Regions from separate parts of the Homo sapiens genome. Here all the other regions are reported to be linked to region 2. The links are microRNA targets in miRTarBase. Many come from high-throughput screens and were not tested one by one. Region 2 holds a microRNA gene; each other region holds the end of a gene's coding sequence.

Region 1 (5,226 bases), not on the chromosome of region 2:
AGCAAGACACCCTCAAAAAAAAAAAAAAAAAAACAAGCATCTGTCTTCAAGCTTAGAGTCTCCCACGGGAGACAGACACATTAAACAGGCTAAATGGTGCAGTCTGGTCAGTGCTATTTATAATTTAGGAACCTTACATATTATATCCCTACTCTAACCTGTTAATGTTCTATAGACTCCCCATCCCCAGGATGTCAACCTCAGTCCCTCAAGGCCATACCTGGACCCAACGGGTGAAGAAAGACGATGAGGAGGAGGACCCGCTGGACCAGCTGATCTCCCGCTCTGGCTGTGCTGCCTCCCACTTTGCAGTGCAGGAGTGCATGGCCCAGCACCAGGACTGGCGGCAATGCCAGCCACAGGTGCAGGCGTTCAAGGATTGCATGAGTGAACAGCAGGCGAGGCGGCAAGAGGAGCTGCAGAGGAGGCAAGAACAAGCCGGTGCCCACCACTGAGACCCCAAACCACCTATCCCCAGTAGATGGCCCTGCCAAGACCAGCACCCAGCAAGATTATAGAGGAAGAAATCCTAAATGCTGGTGTGGGAGGTCTAAAACATGGGGAGAGTTTTTGGATCTGGAGTTGAGAGCCATGGGTTTGGACATGACTGGCACAAACAGCTGTCATATGTTCATGGTCAGATGTCATACATTCTCAGCTGTCTTGTTCCACCAGTATTTACCAGGAAAACAAAGAATGTGTTAAGGGATGCTCCCCCACCCCACATCTTAAGTCAGTGTGCCAAGTACTGAGATGATTTTAGGGACATTTTATTTTAAATTAAATTTACAATCTAATGGTAAATTGATTACCTAATTAGTGCCTTTCTCTTTCATCACTTGTTCTGGATGTTTCAATCAGTTTAGTGGAAGGAAAAATAAATGGGGAAACTTTTTATTCAAATATGTTTTTCTTTTGTTTTTTTGAGACAGGGTCTCTGTTGCCCAGGCTGGAGTGTGGTGGTGGAGTCAGGGCTCACTGCATCCTCAGTGGGCTCAGGCCATCCTCCCACCTCAGCCTCTCAAGTAGCTGGAACCACAGGTGTGTGCATCACCACACCCAGCTAATTATTCAAACATTGAGTACCTATTAAATGCCAGATTCTGTTGAATTAACAGATACCAAGTCTGGCTTTAACTTGCTCCCAACCCAACAAACACAAAGTTGGGCTAACATTTTTAGAGTATATTTAACACTAAAATACAGATTTTCAGCTTTTGAAAAGGGGAGAAGATGTCAACATTGATTTTTATTCCCTCTTAACAATTTGCTGGAGCTGAATAATAACTCCCCCTTTAAGTAGGTTGTGTTTTCCCATTCAAAACAGTTGCATATCATTTCTCATTTTTCTTCAACAAAACGACTCTTCCATTCTATTCTTTTTTTTTTTTTTGAAATGGAGTCTTGCTCTGTTGCCCAGGCTGGCGTGCAGTAGCGCAGTCTCGGCTCACTGCAACCTCTGCCTCCCAAATTCAAGTGATCCCCCTGCCTCAGCCTCCCAAGTAGCTGGGACTACAGGCAAGCACCACCACACCCGGCTAATTTTTGTATTTTTAGTAGAGAATGGGGTTTCACCATGTTGGCCAGGCTGGTCTCAAACTCCTGACCTCAAGTGATCCACCCTCCTCAGCCTCCCAAAGTGCTGGGATTAAAGGCGTGAGCCACCACACCCAGACAATAACAAATATTTCTTCAGGATCTATTAGAAGCCCAAATCTGAGGTATAGTAGGCCTTAAAATTTACTTTGAACCTTCATGCCAGTATTTGGGGAAGAAGTAAAGAGAAAAGGGGAGAAGGTAGGAGTTTAAAGAACAATCCTATTTCTGGCTGAAGGGGATAACCAGCAAATTATAAAGACAAATCGCTATGTGTGTGTGCTCAGTGCTGATTCATCAAAGGAAACAAGCAGTGTGCACTGGAGTTTTCAGCAAGAATCTCAAAGAAGAGAAGAGATTAGTTGAGTTGAACTTTTAAAGCTGAAGTAGGCCAGGCATGGTGGCTCACTTGAGGTCGGGAGTTCAAGACCAGGCTGGCCAACATGGCAAAACCCCATCTCTGCTAAAAATACAAAAAAATTAGCCAGGCATGGTGGCGCATGCTGAGTGTAATCCCAGCTACTTGGGAGGCTGAGGCAGGAGAATCACTTGAACCTGGGAGGTGGAGATGGCAGTGAGCCAAGATCGCACCATTGCATTCTAGCCTGGGTGATGGAGTAAGACGGTCTCAATAAATAAATAGATAATAAAGATGAAGTAGACATCACCTATTTGTAAATTATAACAGAAAAGATTACCATCCAGAATTAAAAGTACCTGGAAGCCACCAAGAAGCACATAGTTTGACAGCAAAGTGAACAAGTAAGGCAGGCGCAGTGGCTCACGCCTGTAATCCCAACACTTTGGGAGGCAGAACTGGGTGGATCACTTGAGATGAGGAGTTTGAGACCAGCCTGGCCAACATGGCAAAATCCCGTCTCTACTAAAAACACAAAAAAATTAGATAGGCGTGTGCCTGTAATCCCAGCTACTTGGGAGACTGAGGCAGGAGAATTGCTTGAACCCAGGATGCAGTGAAGGTTGCAGTGAGCTGAGATCCTGCTACTGCACTCCAGCCTAGGTGACAGAGCGAGACTCCATCTCAAAAAAAAAAAAAAATAGTGAACAAATAAACCACAAAACATAGGAAACTAAATATGCTCTATATCATGGATAATCAAGAGAAATTTTGTTTTTGTTTTTGGTAGAGATGAGGTCTCACTATGTTGCCCAGGGTAGTCTCAAACTCCTGGGCTCAAGTGATCCTCCCACCTCAGCCTCTCAAGGTGTTGGGATTACAGGCATGAGCCCCTGTGCCTGGCCAGAAATGTATTTTTATAAGACATACATACTATTAGGTTCATTGCAGCATTGTTTATAATAGTAAACAAATGGTCCCAATGTCAATTTCCATCAGTAAGGACTCTATTTGCTGTGTATTCAAATCTTTTATAACAGGAATGCGTGTATTTTGTGTAAGAAAGAATAGTAGGCTATGGAGGAGGGGGTGATAGCAGCAGAGAGAAGCATAAAAGACCTCTTTGGCAGGAAGGATGGCTTCCAGACCAGCTAAGTGGAGCAAGCATGTTTTGAAGGACACTGGCTCTAATAGGGAGTTAGCATGGGGTGGGTCACAGAACGTATTTGATCAGGCAAAGAGGACTCTTGCCATCCAAGCCTGTTCCCTCAGATAAATGGGGATAATTCATATGTCATAAGCCAAATAAATGAGGGAATGAAACATACGTAACTAATAATAAAAAGTGTTAAAATTTATTGGGCATTTAACTGAGACAATCTGGTTCCAGAGCCTGCTCTCAATCCCAATGATGTGCTACCTTCACATCCTAGTTACGCCACTGACTAGCTTTGTGACTTTGGACAAGTTATTTAACATCCCAGGATCTGTTTTTACCTGTGTAAAAATGCATATATAGTACCTTTTTCACAAGCCTCAAAACGAATATAGGCCTTCCTCATAGGATTATTGAAAGATTGAGTTAAACATTGGTTTAGCTTAGGAACAGCATCTGGCACATAGTAAGTGTTCAGTGAACGTTAGCTATTACCATCATCACTATTAATGTGTGCTAGTGACTGTCCTGAGTTACATTATCTAATCTAATTTGTAATCCTCTGAACATGGCATTCACTCTCCTTTAGATGAGGAAATAAAGCTCAGACTGGGGATCAGACTCCAAGTATGTCTTGCTCTAAAGCCTAGGCTGTTTTCTACTCTACTCTCACAAGCATCTGTTGCCCAGTACAGTGCTTAACACACAGTAGTGAGTAACCACATTGACTGTGTAAATATTACTTTGCTTTTGTCAGCACTTTGCAAAAAGGAAATTAACTTTTTGCAATTAATTAGTGCAAGTTGCCCACAGTGATATAGCTTGGTATGTTTTTCTTTAGTCTCAGCTCTGCAGCCCACAATCTAGGAGCTGAACTTTAAGGTGCTTCATACCTGTCCCTATAGGATCTAACTCTGGCAGCTTTGGGTTGCCTCTGCTTAGAGGCTTGGTGCCAGGGATGAGTGGAGAGACCTCTTGGCTTGATGCCTATCTTGGCTAGGCCTAGGGCAGACTCATGGTTTAGCCTTAGCCCTTCCTTTCAAGGTCCTTGGCTGGGGACTTGGCCTTGTGCTCGGTACAAAGGTGCACTGCAATGTGTTTTACTAGATGAGTAAGAAGATACTCCTCCCACCCTCTCTCCATAAAGTTGCCAGACTAAGTCCTTGAGCTGCTGACTTCAGAAACCCAAAGAGAACTGAAGCAAGTCCAGATTGAATCCTTTAATTTTCCTGTAGAAAATGCTGGGGCTCCCTCCTCGCTCAGCAAGGACTTAAAGCAAGCAGAGGAAGTAGCAGGGATTCCTCCCTGTCAGCAGCTATCTTTTGAAGAGTTTTCATTCTTCAGATCCTGGGCACTCTGTCTAAATGGTGAGCTGATTTCCTAAAATGAGCTGAAATGTCTGAGAATGAAAGTTACTCCACGGGGATTATTATAGTCAAATGAATCATTTCAGATTCTGCAAGAAGATCAGACACGTGAAAACAAAAATTTCACAAAGAGATCAAAGTACAGATTAAACAAGCACAAGACACATTGGCCACCTCTGTCTCCAGTGTCTGTCCATCAGGATTAGTTCTAGGCACACCCAGTACAAGCTCAGAAAGCTTTCCTTAAGTACACTAGAAACAGAGGGGACCCAGGGGCCTCAGCATTGCTAGTATCTGAGTGGCCAAAATACCTAGATTTGTTTCTCTGTGTCTAAAACATACCTTTTCAGAATCTACAGCTGGCCATTCCCAGGATTCCATGGTGGAGGAACAAGTCATCCTCAGCCAGAGGAAAGGGATGAAAACGAAGCTGAGAAATCTGCTGGCCTCAACTAGGAAAACTGCCCATTTTACCCAGGCATCCTATCCTTCTTGAAAGTTAGTGATCTGGCCAGGCATGGTGGCTCACGCCTGTAATCCCAGCACTTTGGGAGGCCAAGGCGGGTGGATCACCTGAGGTCAGGAGTTACCAGCCTGGCCAACATAGTGAAACCCTGTCTCTACTAAAAATACAAAAATTAGCTGGGTGTGGTGGCGGGTGCCTGTAATCCCAACTACTGAGGAGGCTGAGGCAGGAGAATCGATTGAACCTGGGAGGCGGAGGTTGCAGTGAGCCGAGATTGCACCAT
Region 2 (5,226 bases):
GGCCTGGGTGTTAGGTCAGAAGGAGTACTGGTGCGTGGGGGCCTTACCCCAGGGTTGAGTATTTTATCTGTAAAATGTTATCTGCCCTTTGGCTGCATTGGAATTTCAGAGAAGGCTGCAGAGGCCTGGGTTACACAGCCTGAGTCACAACGTGGGAAGGAATCTCTGCCACGGGAAAGGTGGGCGGAAGCAGCTGGCAGCCTGGGGCGTGCTTCAGGCTCCTCCCTCTAAGGGGCGCCATGGGAACAGGCTCCGGAGGGAGCCGGCGTCTGAAAGGCCCCCGGGACCTGCTGCAGTGCCAGAGGGGCCTCTGGAGCAGGCCTGGCTTTTAAATGGGGGGCTGAATTCCAGCTCACACACACCTCAAGTCCAACCTTACTTTCTTCAGCCAGAATACATTTCTTGTAAAACCTGGCTTGTTGCTTGGCTTTTAAAGATGGTGTATGTTTGTAAAAATATTCTTCTGGGCTCAAAAGCTAGCTTGAGGGGGCAGATGCCCCAGGTGTCCCAGCTCCACAGCCCCTGGCAGATCCCAGACCCCTTGGTGGCAGGTCCCAGAGCCTAGGTGGTAGGAGCTTGATCTTTGTTTCTGCCCTTACCCCTCAGTAGTGGGGCTGCGAGGTAGTAGACAGGATGCCCAGTTAAGTTTGAATTTCAGATAGAAAATAATTTTAGAATAAATATGTTCTATCTAATACATGGGACAGATGTTATTTTTAGAGATAGGATCTTGCTCTGTTGCCCAGGCTGGAGTGTAGTGGTATGATCATAGCTCACCACAACCTTGAACTCCCAGGCTCAAGCGATCCTCCCGCCTTAACTGCCTGAGTAGCTGGGACTACAGGCATGCACCACCACGCCCAGCTAATTTTTCTTATTTTTTGTAGAGACAGGGTCTCACTGTGTTGCCTCACTCGAGCTGCTGACCTCAAGTGATCCTCCCACCTCAGCCTGCCAAAGCACTGGGATTACAGGCATGAGCCACCATGCCTGGCCAGGACATATTTGAAATGGGGAGATTTTAAAAATTCTGATGATTAGACTGAATCCTCAGACGTTCTGGTTTGATTGTTGTGGGTGTAGCCCAGGCATGGGATTTTTTAAAGAGCTGCTCAGGTAATTCCAATTTAATTGCGTGTCCTACTTGGGTTTTTTGTTTGTTTTTATTGTTTTTGCTAAACCTGGCAACCCTACCGAGTAGGGATTAGCAGTAACTTATCTGAAATTTAGAGGTGTTTTGGGGGTGGGGCGAGGGTTTCTGTAGTAGACTCAGATTTTACATGGCCCTGAGCTGCCCTTGCGTTCAGTTGGAAGCCACGCAAAATGAACTGAACCAGGAGTGAGCTTCGTGTACATTATCTATTAGAAAATGAAGTACCTTCTGGTTCAGCTAGTCCCTGTGCGTTGAGAGGCTTTAAGAAACTTCTAGTAAAAATGTTTTTTTCTTTTAGCTTTGAATTGGCCAGAGTTTATCCTAGATTATTTTATTTTAAATTGGTAGAATTCTTTGCGAACTGTCACAGAGAAATTCCTTTTCATGACTTTATTTCTGACCTATTAAAACATGAACAGGCCAGGCATGGTGGCTCACGCCTGTAATCCTAGCACTTGGGAGGCAGTGGCAGGCGGATCACTTGAGCTCAGGAGTCCTAAACCAGCCTGGGCAACATAGTGATACCTTGTCTCTACCAAAAGTTAAAAAAAAAAAAAAAAAAGCTCAAGAACCTGCACGAGGGCCTAAAACAGTGGGCTCAGCTTTGGCTGTGCATTGGAATCACCTGGGGAGATTTGTAAGCTTCTGCTGTCTGGGCTGAACCCCCAGAGGTTCGGATTGAATTGGTGTGGGGTGTGGTCCAGGCATCGAGATGTGTAAAGACCTCCCCAGGTGATGATATGCAGTCCGAGGTTGAGACTGCCCTGTCCTGCAAGGTCGTTGGCCAGAGGTAGAGGAAACTGGTCAAAGTGGCTGTTGGGCTTGTCAAGCCCGTGGCTGAATGACAGTGAGCTCTCTTGCTGGGAGGGTTCCTTTTCCTGTTGTTGAATGGTCCTGGCCTGCAGGATGGGAGGCCAGATGCCTTCAGGAGCTGGTGGATCCAGCTGTTCTCACCAGCCTGGAGGTTAGCAGACCAGAGTGGGTGGGCAGGACCTTGGCCTGGTGCCCCTGGAATCAGTGGGTGGCATGTGTTGGGATATACTGGCTACAGGCTCATCTCAAAGAGCAGGTAGAACAGAGTCAGCAGGGAACTGACAGGTGGGGCTGTCCCCCTGAAAGCAGCCGCAGAAACAGCTGCCACCTATTTGCATAGCTGAGCAGGAGGACATACTGTCTTTGTGGGTTTTGCTTCTGGTCTGTTTCCTGACTGGGTTGATAAAGGGAGTCCCAGCTCGTTCCCTGTTAGCCAAACCAGCATCCTACTCACACACCGGACACTCCAGGTGCTAGTCCACTGGTGCTGGTGTTCAGGGGAGTTGGGGGGGGGGGGCGCGGGGACAGAAGCGCGGGTTCTTGGTTCCAATGAGGGACTTAGCAGAAGCCTCCAGGGGCCAGCAGGGCCAGGTGAAACTGGGAGAAATGAAGCCCTCTGTGTCCTGTGTGTGTGGTGGGGTTTAATGCATTAGCAAATTTAAACTTAAAAACTAACTCTAGGCCGGGCACGGTGGCTCACACCTGTAATCCCAGCACTTTGGGAGGCCAAGGCAGGTGGATTGCCTGAGCTCAGGAGTTCGAGACCAGCCTGGACAACATGGTGAAACTCTTGTCTTTATTTTTTTAAAAAAACAAAAAGTAACTTTCGATGTGATCATACCAGGAAAGTTTTGCGTGGTCACCATGCCAAGAAAATGACTTTGGTTGCCCAGCAGATCCACAGCGACTCTTTCTCAAGGGCTACTGTGGATTCTAGATTGAGGAAAGGGGCCACTTAGGACTCAGTGCTGGTATCCTCCACAGTCCTTTCTCCCAGACTCTGGCCCTCCCTTTGGGACCCAGGAAATCCCCTCTAGGGTGACGCTGCTGGCTAGGAAGACTGAGGTCTGCTGCGCCAAGGGGCCTCAAGTTAGAAGGGCCATGCCGTCAGTGGATGACTTTGAGCGCTGATCCTAGGGACCTGCCAGGTCCTCACTTCCTGCCCTGGGTGCACACATGAATGGGGCAGCCAGCAGGAAGCGGGAGAGGCTGGAACCAGGAGCCTGCCCTACCTGCATGGCAGGACAACTCTGAGGCCCTTCTGCCATATTCTCTGCTACCCACCAGAGAAAATAGGCTGCCTTCTAGAAAGATTTGTTTCTAAAAGCGTAGACCCTGGGGAAGTATAATGTCACCATGCTCACCAGGCGAGGTTTCCCATATGACCTCCCTGCCCCGACCTCGTAGGTTGCTCCTTTCCCCATCTGTAAGGTAGAGATGTCTGCCCCGGAGCTACCAGCTGGGGATGGCATCCAGGCCATGTCTCCTGCAGGATCCAAGTGCTGTTGTCCCCAGGGTGACCCTGCCTCCTGCTGGGGCCCATCCGCTTTGCTGTGCTGCACAGGCTGTTTTCATCTGCATGGTTTGGGGTCTTTGTCCTTGTGCCTTTTCTTCCCCATCGCCACTGTACAGGATTTTCCACATTGCCCACTGCCTCCTTTTCTACATCGTCTCATCTCCCTGGCCTTTCCCGAGCCCTGTAAATGTGTACTTTTTCAACGTGCCTCCCCCAGGTGAGGCCAGCTCTCCCGGGCACATTCGTCCACAAGGATCAGGCCCCACTTACCCTTGGCTCGCTCAGCCTGTAGACTTGGTAACTTTGTACAGAATCTTTCATTATTGTCTTAAGCATGGGGGGCTAGGACCCACTTAGTCCCTCCTCCAGCCTGCAGCTAATTTAGGAGCCTTGCATTCCAGAAAAGGGCAACTTTGTGTAAAGCAGCTTCTCCCACAGAGCTTTCCCTGCATTGTTAGTGATGTCGGGCAAAGCATCACTCTTTAACCTGGGGCATTGGCCCCAGCAGGGATATCATGGGACCGCAGCCGCTCCGTGCACTGTCTCTGCCCCCAGAGGAAGCCCTGTCCATGGTTCCTGGTGCACGGCCACAGGCCTGCCTTGAGGCCACCACATCTGGTGTCTAGAACAGCTGCGGGCCCCACTTGGGCAGAAGGAAGAGGTGCTAGCTGCTGCCCCTGCCTGCTGTGAACACCTGCCCAGCCCTTCCTTGTCTGCTGAGGTGCTCAGACCAGAGTGCCATTAAATACCAACTGATGTCACGGAGCGGACGGTGCATTGCCAAGGACTCACAGCTGTGGGCTCCCTTCCAGCTCCTCCCACTTTCTTGGCTGGGTCTTCTGAGGCCTACGTGGAATGAACTACACATGTGGCCTCATGCCCAAGGGTTTGTTAGATGGCCTCTGACTCTGTGGGATTCAACTTGACTTTTTTGCCCCAGGAGGCTCTGTCTGGAAACAGGCTTAGCTTTAGTGCTGGGGTGGGACCTGCCCTGTGGGCCCCAGGGAGGGGACAGTGGGGGTGAGGCCCTGAGGCTGTCCAGGGTCTGAGCTCTTTGCCTCCAACCTGCTTCTGCCCCAAAAGGAACAGGCTGTTGGTGGCAGGCTCCTCCCGGGGAGCTGTACTGTACAGACCAAGGTGTAAATAAACAGTTTGCTCTTCTCGCCTGACTGAACCATGAGTTTCTGTGGTTGGGGGAGGGTGGGCAGAAGAGGCCTGGTTCCAGGGCTCACAGGGACAGATGGTCTCCCTTAAAAAGAGCAACCCCCCTGCCCCCCACCAAGTTTGTGGTTCCCAGGGTGGCTGGTGCTGTCCCCCAGGGGCAGGGTGGAGTGGGGCGGTGTCACTCTTCAGTCCCTAGGGGAGAAGACGTGGATCCCAGAAGCCTCTTTAATGCCACCATTCCAGCCACAGGGCTATGATGTTTGGAAACTTTGTCCTTTGTGTGGCTATGTTCTTTCCCACTGAGGTCTTCCTAGGGGTCCAGTGGGGTCCCAGTGCCATGCTCCCTCCATGTCCGCCGCTGTGGCTCCCCAGGGTGACGGCCCAATGCCTCCATTCAGGACTGGCTTCAGACCTGCCAGTGCTTGTCTCTGCCACACCATCAAGTACCAAGGTGGTCCCCAGTTGAGTCAACCAGACCCCTGGATTTCTGCCTTCTGTCTGCTCCTTCCTCTATTACAGGATTCCAGGCATGGAAGTGGCTTCACAGGTGGCCCCGGCCCTCCACCTCCCAGTGCAGGCC
Region 3 (5,226 bases), not on the chromosome of region 2:
CGGGCGGCGCAGGCCTGACCGACCGCGCCCCGCGCCGCCTTGGCCCCTCAGCCCGCGGCCGTCTCACTTACCCAGCCGGGTCTCCGCCGCGCCACCGCCGGCGGGCTCCCGCGGCCTCCTCGAGACTCAGGACACTTCCGGCTTCGCAAGCCCTGGCCGGAGGCCACGTGACCGACGGCCGGCGCGCCGGTGCGGGTGCGCGTGCGCACGCCTATGGCCCGTCTGGTAGTCACCACAGCCGCGGCGGCAACTGCCGAGTCGGCTTCCGCGGCCACGGTAATGAGGGGGATGTCTGGAGACACCCCGTCCACTGTTGCCCTCGCCCTTTACTCTAAAGGGGAATGAGGAGCCCTGAGCAGCGAACACAGTAATTGGGATTCCCGCAACTGCAAATCCCGCCCCTTCCCCGAGCGCTGGCCGACAGTAGGGCGGACCGACGCTGAGCAAGGGATTACATCCCAAGATTTACAGGTGTGCAGAACGTGGGACACGTGGGGGGCAGGCACAGACGGCCGGCAGAGCTGGGAGGGATGGATTCTATGTTTTAAGGGCCCACTTTGGCTGCAGTGGAGCCAGATTATCGTCTCGCAGTAATTCAGACTTTACATTGTTTTTTTCATTTTCCCATCACCCAGAAATACATTAAATTCTTAATGTAAAAATGTTCATTTAATTCCCTCTCGGTATTTTGGAAAACGGCCGTATTGGAGTATCTAACTCTAAACTTAAGAATTTAAGAACTAAAACTTAAATACTAAAATTAGGTCCTGCAATATTCGTGCAGTCAAAATCTCAAGCCGCTATTCCCAATAAGGAATAGCTTTCTGAAGGGGTCCCTTCTGCCCACGGACAGCACAACAGGCCTTTCTCAACATGAGGGAGCAGAGACCGCTGCTAATCTAGGGCTAAATTTCTGAGTGGAGGGGAAGAGGAAGATGGTGTTTCCCAGAGTAGCAGCAGCAAACACGAATGAATGGGAAGTCATGCGGAGTGGCTCAGAGGCTTTTGAATGTAACAGACCTAGGGTTGCTGTCTCGGCTGCCAATTACTGACTTAAAAGCTAATCTCTTACCTCTCTAAGCCTCAGTTTTATCAAATGCACAATGGAGATAACAAAAGTCCACTCTAATGAATTCTTACAAAGCAAGTTACTTTATTAGCATTTTAAACAATGTATAAGTGATGGAATCATTCTAACAACACATCTATTCACTGCTTACAATTCCAACTAATTTCAGTTCTTTGATATCTAATGACAAGAGCGAAGACCTGTTAAAGTTCCTTCCACCAGTAAAACTCACAGCTCAAAGTTGTGGGAGTGATTAACTGAGCCACAGGCCTTCATTCACATGTTTACCACATTAAAATACCACACAGTGTTTTCTTATAAGGTCAACCAACTGGGAAGCAATTAACATTAGCATTAAGATTTAAACTGTTAGGCACAGGGCTAAATCAGGCATTATATGAAAACTTGTGGTTCCCTAGTCAAGTCAAACAAATCCCCAAATATTTCAGCTTGTAACAGTTTTGTCCTTCCTCTCTTGAGACAATTATTTGAGTACTTGCTTTTGGAAATAAGGTAATTCATGATGGAAGCTTCCTAGCTGTGATGGTGCTCTAGGCAACTTCAGAGAATGAAGATAGAAGTTATGCATGATTATATAACATGAAGAGTTTAATTTTTATTACACACTCAATTTCCATGCCCTGATTTCTCTTAGCTCTATAAACACATGTAAATCTTCTGCAGAGCTTTAAAGAGCTCTGAAAGGGAAAACACCTTTCCATATATGGAATTGATAGCATAGTAAGGCCGTGTGCAGTGGCTTATACCTGTAATCCCAACATTGTGAGGCCAGTGGGAGGATTGCTTGAGGCCGGGAGTTTGAGACCAGACTGGGTAACATAGTGAGACCCTGTCTCTACCAAAAAAAAATGTAGCTGGGTGTGGTGGTGCACACCTGTAATCACAGCTAGTCTGGATGCTGAGGCAGGAGGATTGGTAGAGTATGGGAGAAGTTACAGTGAGCTATGATGTCACCACTGCACTCCAGCCTGGGTGATAGACTGATCTCTATTCAAAAAAAAAAAAGAAAAAAAAAGTATAGTGATACACTATTAATTCCATATATGCTAATATGAGATAGCATCCATATAAACTACTATCAAGTCTTTATGTGCCAGCTACTGTAATAAGTCTTTTCAAGTTTAACTCATTGAATTCGTAATGAGGTTTGAGGTAGCTACCATTATTTCCATTTTACAAATAGGGAAACTGAGGCTGGGAGACATTCTTTAACTTGCCCAAGGTTCTAAAACCAGTTACTGGCAGAACTGGTATTTGAACCTACTTAATCTGATTCTAGAGCCTGTGCTATATAAACTCTTACCCACTATGCTATGCTATTCATTAGTATCCATTTAACAATTACTACTATTGCAATAGCTGCAATTATCACTCCTATAGTACAGGGGAACCTATCAAAGAAACACTCAGCTTTCACTTATCTATTTCTGAAAACATTTTTTATTAAAGTATAAGGTACATTTCACTGATTTATTTTTATAACTGTCAATTTAGTTAAGTATTTTTATTATATGGTGTAAGAAAAATGTTTGAAATGTCTTCTGGAATTAACCGGAACAAAATAAATGTACAAAATTTAGAATAGAATTTTACAGAGTTTATAAGCCACTGAAGCCCATTCATGAAACCCATTCATGAGGCCAAAGGGCAAAACAAACCCTCCCTGAACATCTCAATTGGGCTTTTAGAATTTAAACGTAAATGTCTATACGAATTCTGCTGCTCAGTTTTGTCCCTCCTCTCTTCTTTCCAGTGACACTACTGATAACTATTATTTTTTCCTTTTGCTTTCTCAAGTAGCCATGAATAAAAATGGAGGAAGGCAGGGGTAAGTACTTCTAATAATTAAATGTCAGTTACCATTTACAAACATAATAAACACATAGGTATACTATAGGTATACTGTGTTCTAAATACATCCAATAAAAGAGTTAGAAAATAAATTGGGATTTTAAATTCTTTTTTTTTTTTTTTGAGAGAGAGTCTTACTCTCTTGCCCAGGCTGGCGTGCAGTGGCACAATCTCAGCTCACTGCAACCTCTGCCTTCCGGGTTCAAGCGATTCTCCTGCCTCAGCCTCCTGAGTAGCCGGGATTACGAGCGTGCACCATCACACCTGGCTGTTGTATTTTTAGTAGAGATGGGGTTTCACCATGTTGGCCAGGCTAGTCTCGAACTCCTGACCTCAAGTGATCCACCTGCCTTGGCCTCCCAAAGTTCTGGGATTACAGTCGTGAGCCACCACGCCCGGCCTGGAATTTTAAATTCTATCAACAGATTCACATAGGCTTTTTCCAGTACATTAAAGAAAAAGACTCTCATATAACAGAACTAAGTTGCATGTTACCTTTGAGGAGTGAGGTTAAATGAATTAAAGCATCCACACACTCATATTTGTAAACCTTTAAATGGGAAATTATGGAGAGATTAAGATGAGAAAATAAAACTAAAGTATTTATAATAATTCCAGAAAAGACTTGGAAGATTTCACTACGTAAAGTTTATTTTTATATATATATATAAAAAAAAGTATAACACTGGAGCCTAAAACCATTCTCTTTTGTAGAATACATATTGGCGTTGAAACAGTTTAAAGAAATGAAATGGCTATCTACAAAAAGTTAGTTTTGATTGCTGTCTTCCCCCATACTTTGTGTCTTCACACATAAAGAAAATTTTCAAAGATTTTATATTCAGCAATTTTTTAAAAAGTACACTGTTTTCCACTGCTATGGTCTTTATAAAGGACTTGACTTAAAATTTCAAATAAAAAAGAATTAAGGTTCTAGGATAACTCTTGTGTCTTTTAAGAGCATCTTTATACAGAACAATTTGGACCGGCATGCAGGCAACTTCTTTTGTTGTTACATACCTGTATTAGGAAAATTACACCCATTTTACAGAAAAATCCCAAAACATATACTGCAATAAGCTCAAAACAATGTGAAAAAGACCAGTGTGAATGGCACACAAAAATCGCCTCTTTATAAATTAACTGGAATTCATGATCATGAAGTAGGCACAGGGAAATCCAGTCCTCAGGGCTTTGCTCTCTGGAAGAACACCTGTAAATAAAGTATTAATGCAATCAATACTAATGTCAGAAGATATCACTTTCACCTGAAGAATGGCTCCAAGTATCTGAGTGCTAGCAATGTTCTTCTGTAACATTAGAACATTTCGCATGCCTTATATATCCGTATGTAATCCAAGCTAAGAACTTTCTGTTCTGGAGAGTTTGGTAAGTGTAGATATAACTTATGCTGACATCACCCAACTGGGGAAGTAGTGAAAATATGGTGTTATCTCTATGCTATAGAAATCAAGTGGTCAGAAGAAAACAAGCTCTTGACACCTTTTTACTGATTGGTACTATTTCCAAATTAACACTGGTAAATTAAATATTGAGGACGGGCACGGCGCCTGTAATCCCAGCACTTTGGGAGGCCGAGGCCTGAAGCCAGGAGTTTGAGATCAGCCTGACCAACATGGAGAAACCCAGTCTTTACTCAAAATAGAAAAAATTAGCCGGGTGTGGTGGTGCATGCCTGTAATCCCAGCTATTCGGGAGGCTGAGGCAGGAGAATCACTTGAACCTGGGAGGCAGAGGTTGTGGTGAGCCGAGATCGTGCCACTGCACTCCAGCCTGGGCAACAACAGTGAAACTCCGTCTCAAAAAAAAAAAAATTAAATATTGAGGAGGAAACAAGTCAAAGCTAAACATAGCAGTTCTAACTCTGTAAGGAATTTACTATTTATTTGATGATTCAAAAGTACTTCCAAGTCAAAATTTGAGACTACAAAGGAGTTGGCTAGAGGCTGTGCTAGGCATGGCCTAGTACTACATGCTGCCATCCATGGCAGGTCAGGTGAGCACCAGACATAATTCAGTGTTCTCAGTAAGGACAATGATATGGTTTGACCCTGTGTCCCCACGCAGATCTCATCTTGTAGCTCCCATAATTCCTATGTGTTGTGGGAAGGACCGGGTGGGAGATGATTGAATCATGGGGGCAGGTCTTTCCCATGTTGTTTTCCTGATAGTAAATGGGTCTCACAAGATCTGATGGTTTTAAAAATGGGAGTCTCCCTGCACAAGCTCTCTCTTTGCCTGCTGCCATCCACGTAAGATGTGAC

What was found. The annotated mature microRNA hsa-miR-4724-3p reads GUACCUUCUGGUUCAGCUAGU and lies in region 2 at 1,375-1,395, shown strand. An mRNA with a match to its seed (bases 2 to 7 or 8) in the 3' UTR can be bound and repressed. Matches are read on the target gene's strand: a 7mer-m8 pairs with bases 2 to 8, a 7mer-A1 pairs with bases 2 to 7 and ends in A, and an 8mer does both.
Region 1: the mRNA of COA4 is a reported target of hsa-miR-4724-3p. The part of its 3' UTR that is shown has no 7-base or 8-base seed match.
Region 3: the mRNA of XPOT is a reported target of hsa-miR-4724-3p. Seed matches in the 3' UTR shown: 7mer-A1 at 3,433-3,439.

The regions. Positions count from the first base shown.
Region 1 is chr11:73,868,344-73,873,569 of GRCh38, reverse strand. It overlaps COA4 (cytochrome c oxidase assembly factor 4 homolog), which reads left to right. Exons shown (of 2, transcript NM_016565.3): 2 at 176-903. The coding sequence starts at 192. The coding sequence ends at 455. Among named protein-coding and RNA genes, the nearest start is that of COA4, 5.9 kb to the left of the region's middle.
Region 2 is chr17:31,533,567-31,538,792 of GRCh38, forward strand. MIR4724 (microRNA 4724) reads left to right here and starts at 1,317; the gene lies at 1,317-1,405. It overlaps RAB11FIP4 (RAB11 family interacting protein 4), which reads left to right. Exons shown (of 15, transcript NM_032932.6): 15 at 1-4,645. RefSeq lists enhancers at 1,945-2,244, 4,824-4,893.
Region 3 is chr12:64,447,033-64,452,258 of GRCh38, reverse strand. It overlaps XPOT (exportin for tRNA), which reads right to left. Exons shown (of 25, transcript NM_007235.6): 25 at 1,134-4,154. The coding sequence ends at 4,128. It overlaps TBK1 (TANK binding kinase 1), which reads right to left and starts at 139. Exons shown (of 21, transcript NM_013254.4): 1 at 72-139. RefSeq lists a silencer at 1-268.